Homo sapiens: one gene and its partners. The protein of the gene in region 1 purifies or fractionates together with the protein of each later gene. This does not show direct contact. Each region holds a gene or a part of one and is shown on either strand. Other genes may lie near its edges.

Region 1 (3,500 bases):
ACATTAGAACCCAAGGGACTAAATTTAAAACTTAATTTAGAAATAAAATGGAAATATTTTATCAGGTCTTTAATATAATTTCTGAGGTCCATTTTTTTTAATCCAGAAGATAATTTTGCCTAGAAATTTAAGTTGAATTTGGTTAATATGGTTACAGTCCCAAGGGATACACTGTATGACTTACCCAAACACATTCTTATTGAAGGAGTTACCTGATAACAGATGGCACAAATATCATTGTGTTTCTCAAGCTGCTCTTTCGTAGCAATGGGTAACGATTTAATCTTATTCACAGCATCCCTGCGGAGAAGAAAGCTCTTCCACCCCAGCTGGGCCCGAAGCCACACGTTATAGTAGGAATGAATGAAGATGATCATTGAGCCCATCACTGTCCATTCTCCAAAGATGGTCTCTGAGACGCCATAGGCCACCACACAGAGGGCCACAAGAAACTCCAGCAGGCGGTAAGTGCCATTCACATAGTAGATGACATCATCCATGTTTTCCACTGGCTCTTTTCTGAATTCCTCAACCATAAATAAGACATAAATAAAAAGTGTTCCCAGAACCTGAAAAAAAAAAAAAAATGTACGTATCTTGAAATATGATCACTAAGATACTTTTTTCATAGGCTTTAAACAATAACACATTCCTGATGTTTTTAGGGTGCAATATTTCAAATATACAGAAGAGTATCCAGGGGAAAAAAAAGTTTTAATAAATAAAAAATCAACTCTAAAGAGAAGACACTGATGACTAAAATGTGGGTGATCTTAGTAATCCAGGCATAGAAAACAAAAAGCCACACCGTCAGACGTGACTTTCCTAAAATGATTCTGATGAGTAATCAATTTTTTGATTCATCTTTTTCCCTTATTCCTTAGGTCACCAAACCTCATCAACTCCATCTTAATTTTCCTCATACCATAGTCATTCCTGTTCTACAACTCGCAAAGAAGTTTTACTTCTGCAAAAAAATAATGAATAACTCTTCACTGTGTTATGTTTTCCTTTACCTAGGTAGCAAAGATCTTCCTTTAAGTTACAATAAGCTTATCATTTCTAGGGCAATATTTTGTGTGTGCATGTCTGTGAAACATGTATCATGTCTGTATGTGTGCAATACACACACATCATATACATATATATTTATATACATCGTGGAACTATTGGTATTTTTGAGTGGAATTTAAAAAACACACTCCAAATAAGCTCTAACACAAGCTCTAAAAACTTTTAATATTTTAGTTACTTGTCAATTTAAGATTTATATGACACCTCTGTATCATACCATTTTGAAAAAGAGAAACTGAAAGGCTTAATTACCTTCATAAAAAATACAGTGACATCAATAGGTTTATGTAATATTTTCTTTTTTTTTTTTTTTTTTTTGAGACGGAGTCTCGCTCTGTCGCCCAGGCCGGACTGCGGACTGCAGTGGCGCAATCTCGGCTCACTGCAAGCTCCGCTTCCCGGGTTTACGCCATTCTCCTGCCTCAGCCTCCCGAGTAGCTGGGACTACAGGCGCCCGCCACCGCGCCCGGCTAATTTTTTGTATTTTTAGTAGAGACGGGGTTTCACCTTGTTAGCCAGGATGGTCTCGATCTCCTGACCTCATGATCCACCCGCCTCGGCCTCCCAAAGTGCTGGGATTACAGGCGTGAGCCACCGCGCCCGGCCGGTTTATGTAATATTTTCATAACCTGCCATCTAACTCCTGTGCTCAAATAAATGTAATGTGTTCTAGTAAAGAGAGAGAGAAGTTATCACCTGAATAGTCCACTTATAATCATTCATCTTGAAAAAATTTAATTCCTCCTCTGGGAGGAAAAATAACAAAATTGGTTATTATATAGAGTTAATTAATCATAGGCTTACCTGAAGAGAGGTAAGAATGCTGCTGGAAATAATGATAAGAAGCCAAAAATCCATGTGGAAAAACTGGCAAATCATATAAGCCATATAAGCAGGGAATACCAATAAAAATAAACAAAGGCTTACAGCACGGAAGTGTTTCCACAAGCTCCTGGAGAAAGACAAAATTATTCTTTTTAAGTGCCTGCCACCTAGTAGCACAACCACTCACATCAGCAGCTAACATCTCTGGTGCCATGATCAAATTTCACAAATTCCCACTGAACACCCTTCTCCATGCCAGTCACTGTACTAGAGTTCAGACCAAGTCACACAGGCTTGGCATGTCAAAGCCACCACACTCAGTCAATTGCAAAGTACAGCTGATTTTCTTTTGTTCCTCAATAGTTTGCTTTCAATTGCTACTCCTAGCAATTTCAAATTATTTCAGGCTTTTGTAGCCTTAAACCTTAACAATTTCAATAATTTTTCCTGGTTAAGACAGGGAGGGAGTATTAGAATAATTTGTGGTCTTTTTCAAATCTTATGACACCCTCTTCCCACTGTTTCCACTTGTGATGAGAATCTCTGCTACAGAGAGTGCAGTGTGACTAATAGGAATGACTCTCCAATGAGCAGGTATACTCATCCTCACATCTGTTGTGGTCAGGGTAAGTGGGAGACATGACTGAGAGCAACTGTATTGTAAGATCTACTACCTGGTTTTCCTCCCTCCTCCAGCCCTGATCTATCCAGGACACTGCCAGCCAGACTAATCCTCCTAAAGCTCTACTATCGTAATATTTTCAACACTGTCTCTAAATTTTTGAGCCTGGCATTTGAGGTCCTCCACTCCTAATTTTTCCATCCAAGCTTGTCAAATCTGTTCCTCATAAACCAAGCTGCTTATTAACTAACTGCCCTCTCAGCAAAACACAAGCACTCTTACGTCCCACTAGAAATTCCTCCATCATGCTCTCCATTTCTCTAAACCCTTTAGGCTAGTTCAAGCTAAACAACTTTGGCTTTCAATTGAAATAAAGCTCATGGCTACAAAAAAATTTAAGCTGTTTTAATTAAACATCAACATCTGTGATATGTTCTCAAATCCAAGTAAAGCATCTCAAAGAGACACAAATAACATAAATCATCTCTCCTACCTTTAATTATAATATAGTCAGGAAGTAAAAGTTACCACACACAAGGTCAAATGCTATACAGTGTGGTCCTATTATAATCAGTAATTCAGAGAAGAAAGTTAATTATTATGGTAAAAATTAAAGCTGCATACTTTGGAAAGTGTTTTACATTTTTTCTTGCCAAAAACTAATAATAATAATAATAATAATCAGAAATTAAGGAACAAATGTAAACTTGTCAGTAGCTTTGCTTTGAGATTCAGCAATTTTAACTTTTTAAAGAAAGGCAGTAGCTGTACTGTGTTAGATGATGAATTATAGATCTAATAGGGCAATCTGCCTTAAAACCTTAAATATATTTTTTAAAAATCAAGCCAGCTATGATTTATATGAAATATGTACGTATTTATAAACACACATGCATAGATTTAAGCACACACACAGAAATGTATATACAACAATGTTATGTCAAGAGTTTTACATTTATGCCTAATTTTAATACAGGTG
Region 2 (3,500 bases), on another chromosome or scaffold:
GCATGAGCTGATGTTTCCAGCCTAATTTTTTAATCAACAAATATTTCTGAGCCACTCCCCTCCATGTATAAAACATGGCTCTAGGTGCAGAGGTTTTGTTTTGTTTTGTTTTTAAGCATGAGACTCAGTTCCCCATTGCAAGAAGCTTGAACTAACAGTGTAGAAGGCAAGTTGACAATTACAAAACAAGATGATCCACCTGTAAGAAAGGAGTGAAAAGGGTACTGTAAAAATACAAAGGAGGAAGCAATCAGCGCTACCCCAGGACCTGGTAAGGAAGAGGGGCTGTCAGGCAAGGTTACAAAGAGAAGGCAACATGTAAGTTTTACAGAGGAATCCACAAGGAAAATTTTAAGGATAATAATAAATGTTAAGGCACCATCACAATCACACACACAAAAAGCCCTGAAAAAAAAAAAGTCAGAGAAAGAGGAAGTTCTTCACCCAAGGGCAAACAGCAAGAGGAAAGGAGCTGGAAGCAACCCAGACTCTTGTCATCCAGCTCAAGGAGATTTTTTAGCTGAAATAAAACATCGCATAATATTTACACCCTTCCCCACCTGAGCTTGGGCTACATGCTCTACAAAGCAAATTAAACATCACCTGCCTGTCCTCTAAAAGTCTACAATCTAAAAACAGGCACACTAATAAATGAACAAATTCAAGAACTTTGATGACGAACTATCACCCAAAGACAGTGTTCTGAAACAAACACTTCTCAAGTTCAGTTTGGCCCCCAAAATGAGGATAATAAATTTTTGCCCTTCCCTTTGGAGATGTTAAATACCAAGGGGAAATATTAAAATTGCATGGACGGGTTCCTTAAAAGATTATAAATAGAATTACTATGTGATCCAGCAATTTCACATCTAGGTATATGTCCAAAAGAAGTGAAAGCAAGGTCTCAAGGAGATATCTGCCCACCCATGTTCACAGCAGCATTATTCACAATAGGCAAGAGTAGAAGCAACCCAAGTGTCCATAGACAGATGGAGGGAGAGGGAATGGAGAGTTAGTGTTTAGTGGACACAGTGCTTGTGTTTTGGAAGATGAAAAACGTCCATCTTTTTCATGATGATGGGGAGGGATGATGGTGATGGCTGCACAGCAATGTGAATGTGCTTATGCCACTGAACTGTATGTACACTTAAAAATGGTTAAAATGGTAAAATTTATGTCACATATATTTGAGCAAATAATACACATATACAAAGAAAGTTAATAAAAGAATTTGTGATTATGTTCAAATAGGGTGCATGTATCTAGCCCTAATTTAGCAAGTTTGAAGAAGGGAGAGATTACTGTGGAGTGGAGTGTTCCAGGACGAAGACACAGCCTCGAACCCAAGTTCTGATGGAAAACACTCCAAATCTGGGAGAAATGGTCAGGACTCAGTAAGCAGAAGTGGACAAACTTAGTTTAAGTAGAGGGTTTGTGATGGAAAGTGGTAAAAGAGTAGAAAAAAAGAGACTGGTGCCAGAATAGAATGGCTCCTTAAAAGCCAACTTTATGAGTTTGGATTTCTACCTCTACCCAGAGAAGAACCACTGGTGGCTTTTGAGAAGGGGTGTTATATGATGAACACAGTGGTTCAGTGTGGGATGGTTTGGAGAGGGAGATCCTTAGTTGATAGAAAGTGGACTCCAGGTCGCTTAACTTGAGGGCTACCAAGGTGACTACAAAGTCTACTAAATCTGAAACCTAACACGTGGTGCTGCTAGCTTAAAGCTATGACTTTAAAATGTATCAGGCCAAATGCTTGCACATGAATGGAATTCTTCTCAAAGCATACACAGAAACTGTTGACAGTGGTACCTTCTTAGAAATAGGGCTGAAGTTAGGAGAAGACTTTTACTCTTCATTGTATACCCTTGTATAATATGGATATATGTTTTAACCACGTACATGAGTTTATTTTATAATTTAAAAAGTTTTTTAAATATGACAACCAGGAAGCATCAAAAAATATTTGGGCTTTAACCAGCCAATTCAAAACATTTCTAAAAATAAAGTGAAATATATTTCAATCTTGTTTCTCCCATATCTTAATCTCCATCACATAGTATAAACGTTGTGGGACTGATCTAAAAGTAACAGTACAAAGTACACAGCACATCTAAAGCTTCGCTTCAAACAGATGTCATGAATCATCCCAAAATAAAAACATCTCCTTTTTGGTGTATTTAAATGAAAAGTCTGCCAAGACTATTCCAAGTCAACACCTCGACAAAAACAGAAATTAAAAAAAAATAGCCCATGGTACATTTGATAAAATACATCACCATCTCAGTAAACGACCTTTTTGTTCATCCAGTTGTTCAGGCCAAAAACAATGGAATCATCTTATTCTTTTTCTCTCATCCTCTATATCCAAATCTCATAATCTCTATACTCAGAACCCAACTGCATCTCACCAGGACTATCATCCTGATCCATCCTCTCGTCCTGAACCACCGCAGTAGCTTTCATGGGACTCCTTGCCTCCACTCTTGTGCCCCACAATCAATCCTCCTTAGGGCCGCCAGAAAGATCTGCTTGAGACACAAATCCCAACAAGTCACTCCCCTGCCCACAACTTCCAGTGGCTTCCTATGACACTTGGACTAAAACTCAAAGGTCACAAAGCCTGCACCATCAAGACCCGCTTTTCTCTCCAGCACTGTGGTTAGCTCTCCCCATGACACCCTGCACTCAGGCCACACTGGCCTCTTTGCTATTGCTTGGACACAGCAGTGGCCCCACGTTGGGGGCTTCCCATTTGGTATGGTTTGTCTGTGTCCCCACCCAAATCTCATCTTGAATTGCGGCTCCCATAATCCCTGCATGTCGTGGGAGGGACCCGGTGGGAGGTAACTGAATCACGGGGGTGGGTTTTCCTGTGCTGTTCTCGTGATAGTGAAGAAGTCTCATGAGATTTGATGGTTTTATAAAGGGCAGTTCCCCTGAACATGCGCCTGCCACCATGTATGACATGCCTTTGCTCCTCCTTTGCCTTCTGCCATGATTGTGAGTCATCCCCAGCCATGCTGAACTGTGATTCAATTAAACCTCTTTCCTTTATAAATTACTCAGTCTCTGGTATGTCTTTATTAGGAGTGTGAGAACAGACTACCACTCAACCTGAATCTCTTCTCCCAAACATCCCATGCCTCTCTCCCCACTTCATTTGAGTCTCAGCCCAAATGAAGCCCCATCAGATAGTGTTTTCCCAACCACCCTACCTGAAATAGTAGAACCACCCTTCTTTCCCTTCATATTGCTTTATTTTTCTTTTTAGCACTTGAAATTACAATATATATTTTTGTCTGTTGCTTGTCATTTAGTTCCTCTCTCCCCCAACTACAATGTGCACTCTACGACTTCAGACATTTTTGCCACATTCACTGTTACATTCCCTGGGCCTACAGCATGTCTGGCAAATTAAATGAGAACTCAGTAAATATTTGTTGAAGACTGACATACAAATCAAGGCCCTCAAGATCACTGGACAAAAAGAGGCT
Region 3 (3,500 bases), on another chromosome or scaffold:
GTTGGCACTTATTGTTTCCAAGCCTCCTAGAAGCAGATCACATAATCTCACTCTACCACCATATCCCCACTTAATTGTCCCTACATTAGTTTCTTTCCTCATTTGCCCATTCCTGTCTTCAAATGGTAAGTGAGGTAAAACTTTGGGGAAGAGAGATGATACATATACAAGTCTGGTATAATTGCCTTCTTTTTCTTTTTTTCTTTTCTTTTTTTTTCTTTTTTTTCGAGGCAGATTTTGCTCTTGTTGCCCAGGCTGGAGTGCAGTGGTGCAATCTCAGCTCACTGCAACCTCCACCTCCCGGGGTCAAACCATTCTCCTGCCTAAGCCTCCAGAGTAACTGGGATTACAGGCACCTGCCACCATACCCGGATAATTTTTGTATTTTTAGTAGAGACGGGGTTTCACCATGTTGGCCAAGCTGGTCTCGAACTCCTGACCTCAGGTGATCCACCTGCCTTGGCCTCCCTAAGTGCTGGGGTTATAGGAGTGAGCTACCACGCCTGGCCTAATGGCTTTTTTTTTTAAGACAGAGTCTCACTCTCTCGCCAGGCTGGAATGCAGTGGCGCAATCTGCAACCTCCACCTTCCGGATTCAAGAGATTCTCCTGCCTCAGCCTCCTGAGTAGCCTGGCTTTTGCCTTCTTTTTGAAAGTACGTATGAGGCCGGGTGCGGTGGCTCACGCCTGTAATCCCAGCACCTTGGGAGGCCAAGGTGGGCAGATCACCTGAGTTCAGAAGTTCAAGACCAGCCTGGCCAACGTGTTGAAACCACATCTCTTCTAAGAGTACAAAAATTAGCCAGGCATGGTGGCGCATGCCTATAATCCCAGCTACTCGGGAGGCTAAGGCAGGAGAATCACTTGAACCCAGGAGGTGGAGGTTGCAGTGAACGGAGATTGCGCCACTGTACTCCAGCCTGGGTGAGAGAGTGAGACGCCACCTCAAAAAAAAAAAAAAAAAGTACATATGAGAGAAGCAATGCTGGGAGGAATGGATAATGGAAGAGTTGGAACCATCAGATTCTTCTTTTCTTCTCCCCAAGTGGGAATGTTGAGTGGGCAGAGCAGTGGCAGGTTGCTAAAAGGCTGTTTGTGGGAAGGTTTAAGAGCCCTCTGTACAATCATGTGTCCGTTTTTTTATCCTTCACTCTTTTCTTTCCCTAGTTATCTTCAGGCAGAGTGAGAAGCTGCAGCAATGTCTGATTTTGTGGAAAGCGAGGCTGAGGAGTCAGAGGAAGAATACAATGATGAAGGCGAGGTGGTACCCCGAGTCACCAAGAAATTTGTGGAAGAGGAGGATGATGGTGAGGAGGCCCCAGCCTCAAGCTTCTCCCCACTATTGCTAAGCTTTGGATAGTTGGATTCTTGCTGATGAAAAGCTCAGGCTCAGCACAGAAGTTATCACACATGAGGTACCAGCTTGAGAACTTTCAGTCATTCTTAGCAGATACTAACTGAGCATCTGTCTGTATGCCAGGCACTAGGCCTGGAACTAGAAATATAAAACAATAAATATCCAGCTATTGTGGAGTTTACTTTAGTTGGGGGGTGGTTGATAATAAATCAGTAGATAAGTCTGTATATAATACTTTCTGCTTTTAGACCTAGCATTGTTGATATTTATTCACCTCGTTTCCTATTTCTCTGGCCAAGCCCAATCTTTAGAATTGTCAACAGAGTAGAACCACGAAATGACTTCAAAGGGGTAAAGGGACGTACAAGTTTTATCAAAGGAATTATGGCAAAAAAAAGGAATATAGCTGCTGAGTTTACAAACTGAGTAAAACAAAGTTATTGGTGGCTATAATAATCTAGTAATGATTTTGAGAAGCCAAAGTGACGGGGAAGATCATCCTGCCCAAAGACAGATGGTGAATGTAGGGGAAGAAAACATTCTTTCCAGATGCTGCTACTCTAAGTCAATGGCTATGTTTTGCATCTTTACATGAGGCAGAAGAGTTAACATGGCACCCAGGTCATTAGGTGCAGAGCAAATGGATAATCACATTAATCAAGTGACCCTGAACCTCTAGCCTGTTTTTCAGTCTCCATGCCTCAAACATGCATGTCTTCCAGATGAGGAGGAGGAGGAGGAGAACCTAGATGATCAGGATGAGCAAGGCAACTTGAAAGGCTTTATCAATGACGATGATGATGAAGATGAAGGGGAGGAGGATGAGGGCAGTGACTCTGGTGATTCAGAAGATGATGTTGGCCACAAGAAGAGAAAACGCAGTGAGTAGTCTGTCGTTGGCTCAAGTGAGGCTTGGGTGGAGGTTGCAGTGGAAAAGGGCAACCCCATCACCATGGGCAACACTTTGTTTCTTCAGCCTCTTTTGATGACCGCCTGGAGGATGATGATTTTGACCTCATTGAGGAGAATTTGGGTGTCAAAGTCAAAAGAGGAGTAAGTGTCATTCTTTGTCTTTTGTCCCTGGGGGTAAAGGAAAAAGCCCTGGAAATTTCAATGTCTGTGGGTGAGGAGGCACACGCAGGACAGTTTGGAGAACATTAGAGCACGGTGTTCGGTATCATTGTACTACGGAGCCTAGATTTGCATCCCAGATCTGGGTGCCTGTTAGAGAAAGTCTTGTCCAAGTTTCAAGGATGGGCTTTGAGGCTACAAGAGCATCACTCGGCATGTTCTTTCCCATCTCTCTTGGTCAGAGTAATTGTGGTGGGAAGAAGGGAGTGAGACTGGAGATTTGGTATCCGTATGCCAGACTCCTCAGATCCTGATAAGGCAGGTTTTCCCACCCCTAGCAAAAGTACCGGCGTGTCAAAAAAATGTCAGATGACGAGGACGATGACGAGGAGGAATATGGCAAGGAGGAACATGAAAAAGAAGCTATTGCGGAAGAAATCTTCCAGGATGGGGAAGGGGAAGAAGGGCAGGAGGCCATGGAGGCCCCCATGGCTCCTCCAGAGGAGGAGGAAGAAGATGATGAGGAGTCAGGTATGTTATATTGGGCAGGGAAGCCAGTGTTTGGATGGGTATTGGGATTTCCTGGCCCATGGGAACAGGATGGAAACCATTCTTTAGCTACATCCCCCAGCATTTGACACAAAGAAGTTCCTTTTCAGGAGCTTCCCTTCTCTGTTGCTCACTGGCCACTCACATAGTAGGAACCAAAGCAATTTAGTCCTGGCTCAGCCCCTGACTCTGAGCCCCAACCCATCCTTTTCCTACCCAGATATTGACGACTTCATTGTGGATGATGATGGACAGCCTCTGAAAAAACCTAAGTGGCGGAAAAAGCTTCCTGGATACACAGACGCGTGAGTGGGGTCTGGTACAAGGTGGGGATAAAGTGATTGAGTGGGCCCAGTCAGGAAGGAGGAGATCAGAGGCCTTTGCCAAAAATGGGGCATTCCCAGCTTGCAGCCATTTTGCTTCCCTGCCTCAAATAACCTCTACCAGGCAGTGATTTCAGACTGCTCCCGGAAGCCCTGGGAGCTGTCTCTGCACTCTAGGACTACTGTGGGATTGGAGTAGAG
Region 4 (3,500 bases), on another chromosome or scaffold:
TCCCAACACACTGGAAGCTGAGGCAGGAGGATTGCTTGAGGCCAGGAGTTCAGGACCAGCCTGAGCAACACAGACCTCGTCTCTACACACACGCATGTGCACACAACAGACACAGTGGTGCATACCTGTAGTGCACGCATGCACACACACGTGCGCACAGTGGTGTACACCTGTAGCCCCAGCTATTCAGGAGGCTTAGGTGGAGGATTGCTTGAGGCCAGGAGGTTGAGGCTGCAGTGAGCCATGATCGCACCACTGTACTCCAGGAGCCTGGGTGACAGAGCAAGACCCTGGGGTCTCAAAGAAAAACGCTGTCTCAAACTAAAAAAAAAAAAAGGTCCCGGGGCTTGTGGGTAGCAGTAATGAAAGGTTGAGGAACACGAGTTTAGGATAGTTAAAGAAGGGTTTTAAATAGGAACTATGAAGGTTAGTCATTGAAGGATAGATGGTAAGTTTTAGGTAAACAAAGATGGAGAGGTTATTTTATTCAAGATGGTTTTCTTGGAGATTATGTGTTTTTATAAAATCAGACTGGGTGTATAACATGTCTCACATGCCGCATCATAGCCTCTAGTTAGTGTCTTATAAACTGAAGAATAGGAAAATTAAAATCTCAGAATTTCCTTTTAAACAAGATCAAATTTAAAGTGTTGTAGTAGATTACCCATTGCCTCTGTGTTCATTCTTACCAAGTAGTTTTTTGATTAGAGGTAGAGGATTTATTCATTTCTTTGTGCAGTCATGTTAGCAGTACTGTTTATCTAAACAGACTCTTGGTTACATACGGAATTATGGTTCTCTTGTGCTGTCTTATTCATTGAGTTAAAGAATTATAGAATTTTTTTAGAGATGTAGAAGACTGTAGAGATTGTTTAAACTCCTCCATTGATACATAGGGAGAAAATGGACCTGCAGTGAAGATCCATTGATGTTAGTGGTGGAGCTGGCCTCACCACTTTGGTCTCCTGACTTGCAGTCTACTGCCCTTCTTCTCACAATATCATTTTATCTAAACCAGTATGAACCTTGGTCTGGAGGCAGAAATTTTAATTTTAGTAATTTATCTCTTTAGACCATACCAGATTGTCACTTCTTTTTCCATTTCTCTAGACAAATCAGTCATTTTCTCCAGAATGTGGAAAGGCAGTGGGTTTTGGAGTTTGACTTTTCCACTTCAGCTTTAACCTTGGACAACTTACTTAACTTCTTTGCCTAATGCTCTTATATGTTAAATGGGAATGAGAATACTTACTTAATAAGGTGGTTGTTAGGATTAAGTTAGATGACCTATATATAAAGCCTTTTCCTCTGTGTTGGATATATTTAAAAAATTTATTAAATGTTTTTCTCCCCTTTCTTTCTCTGCCACTAGAGTACTTACCACATTGTGTATCACAGTTAGTTATTTTATGTGTCCCAGGTGCGAGTCTTGGAGGTTTTCCCCTTAGTAATTTCTCAACTTTATGTAATATTATTATGGGGTCTATGACATAATTTTTAAAAAACAAACCAGTAAAGCCAGGAATTTGCTACTGAAACAGAGATGCTGCTATAGTAGACAGTTAATTCATCTGTCAGAGAAGAATTGAGTACTAGTGTTCATTTTTAATACTAATAATTCTATAATAAACTGACTTACTATATTGTTGATTCTTGTCTAAGGCCTTGTTTTGACCTTAAGAATTTCATTATAATTCCACAAGGGAAATGTATTGATTGTGTCATTTGGCTCCCAGTCTCTGTCCTTGACTGTTTCTGTGATTGCCTTGCAGAGCTCTGAGGAACATGAATACAGTGATGAAGCTCCTCAGGAAGATGAGGGCTTTATGGGCATGTCCCCTCTCTTACAAGCCCATCATGCTATGGAAAAAATGGAAGAATTTGTTTGTAAGGTAAGAGTGCAGTTTCTTGTCATTGTCATGCTATATATTTAGCCCTTCCAAAACAGAAACCTTTAAAGAGAGTGGTAGTACTATAGCCTTTGGTTTGCTTTGGGGAAGATCTGTGGCAAGATGGGGACAGAAGTGGTCTTGGGACTCTAATCCTGTTGAAGACAGAATACATTTGTTGGCTTGTAGTAGCCATGATAAAGCTCTGATAAAACTAGGATATCCAGCTGGGAAACAAACATTTCCTAATGTAGGTTAACAGAGTAAATGTCTTATTGGTGGTTTAGACAAACAGAATGAAACATAGTCAGAAGTGGTTGACGCCTGGAGATATGAAAATGCCCTCCGCAGGTCCCTTAAATCTGTTCTGCTGAGTGACTGCAATGGCAAATGTACTGTTCTTTCTAGGGATTCTGTGAGTAATCAGGCTACTCTTGAGAGAGATTTTCCAGTTTCCATGTACATCTGGTATTTTCAGTTCAGCTGGTATACATTCTGTCTCTTAAGGTTTTTCTTCCAGTCCATTGTCTTGATTCCCTAGGACCTATTATGGGATTCTTTTTTTTTTTTTTTTTTTCTAAAATAGTAATTAGAATTGAGTTTGCCTGCTTAGAGAAAATAGACACACTGGTAAACTTGTAGGTACTTGATCAATCAGATCAATAAGGGCCCTGGCAGGTAGAATCTAATTAATGTAAGTCGATCAGTCTGTGTGTATACGTATGTGTATGTAAATTGATTTATTAAACATTTCTGGAGAACTCTTTATTATTTAGAGAGAAATTTTTGTGACACTTAGCTTTTCATGGCTTTTATGAAACCAAAACTTTTTATGTACATGGTCTTAGATCCAGGAGACTAAATATAGGTTTTCTTACATTCACAATAATGCTGGAAATAATTGGGATCAGTGGACTTAGAATGCTATTACTTTGGACCAGGGTATGAAAAGAGAACATTGTGATCTGAACATAGACATCCTTTCCAAGACTAAGGGTCCAGTGGGTTTTCAGGGGGAGTTTAAACATTTATGGGTCTGTAATAGAAAATTTTAGCCAGTTTGAAAATGAGTGAAGAAACAACTGAACAGAACAATAGATTCATTCTAGTGATCACTGTCTCAGGAGAATTAGCACAAAGGGATACAAAAGATTATTTTGTTTTTAAAATGCAAATTTGGTGTGAAGAAATCTCTCAAAGTTGGCAAATTTAGTATCTGGGCCATTAGGGGATTTTAATATTTAGAGATCAGCGGGGTACGGTAGCTGACTTAACTGCCTTTTTGTCCTCTCCCTTTCTGAACAGAGAACAAAGAATAAAACAAATAAAACTCTAAATTTAACAGCAAATCAGAGAATAAATAGGGCAGGACATTTGTTTGCTACAAACTATGATCTTCTGAAGGAAAAGGAGTGTTGTAAATATCCCTTAGCAGTTTGTTGATGACAGCAGAATGAAGAGGCATCCTGTTACACAGTGTTGTCTGGTGTGGCTCAACCCTGCCATGGCAGTGCAACTGACCACACTTGAAAACCAGCCGTGTCTAGTGGCACAGGGATTCTATTTCTTGGACTGGAAGCAAGTAAACAGAGACAGTTTAATATGAAATGT

What was found. The genes of interacting proteins can lie anywhere in the genome.
Region 2: the proteins of RNF145 (region 1) and SPTB purify together in Homo sapiens (affinity purification with mass spectrometry; one large-scale study listed by BioGRID and IntAct). This does not show direct contact.
Region 3: the proteins of RNF145 (region 1) and SUPT6H purify together in Homo sapiens (affinity purification with mass spectrometry; one large-scale study listed by BioGRID and IntAct). This does not show direct contact.
Region 4: the proteins of RNF145 (region 1) and ADIPOR2 purify together in Homo sapiens (affinity purification with western blotting; one study listed by BioGRID). This does not show direct contact.

The regions. Positions count from the first base shown.
Region 1 is NC_000005.10:159,161,054-159,164,553, forward strand, and holds part of RNF145 (RING finger protein 145), read right to left. Parts: intron 2,027-3,500; coding exon 1,879-2,026; intron 570-1,878; coding exon 213-569; intron 1-212. UniProt on the Homo sapiens protein: E3 ubiquitin ligase that catalyzes the direct transfer of ubiquitin from E2 ubiquitin-conjugating enzyme to a specific substrate.
Region 2 is NC_000014.9:64,869,908-64,873,407, forward strand, and holds part of SPTB (spectrin beta chain, erythrocytic), read right to left. Parts: intron 2,772-3,500; exon of another isoform or gene 2,415-2,771; intron 1-2,414.
Region 3 is NC_000017.11:28,672,205-28,675,704, forward strand, and holds part of SUPT6H (transcription elongation factor SPT6), read left to right. Parts: intron 1-552; exon of another isoform or gene 553-654; intron 655-1,166; 5' UTR 1,167-1,197; coding exon 1,198-1,306; exon of another isoform or gene 1,307-1,414; intron 1,415-2,078; coding exon 2,079-2,237; intron 2,238-2,332; coding exon 2,333-2,409; intron 2,410-2,765; coding exon 2,766-2,958; intron 2,959-3,196; coding exon 3,197-3,281; intron 3,282-3,500.
Region 4 is NC_000012.12:1,771,070-1,774,569, forward strand, and holds part of ADIPOR2 (adiponectin receptor protein 2), read left to right. Parts: intron 1-1,772; coding exon 1,773-1,892; intron 1,893-3,500. UniProt on the Homo sapiens protein: Receptor for ADIPOQ, an essential hormone secreted by adipocytes that regulates glucose and lipid metabolism. Required for normal body fat and glucose homeostasis.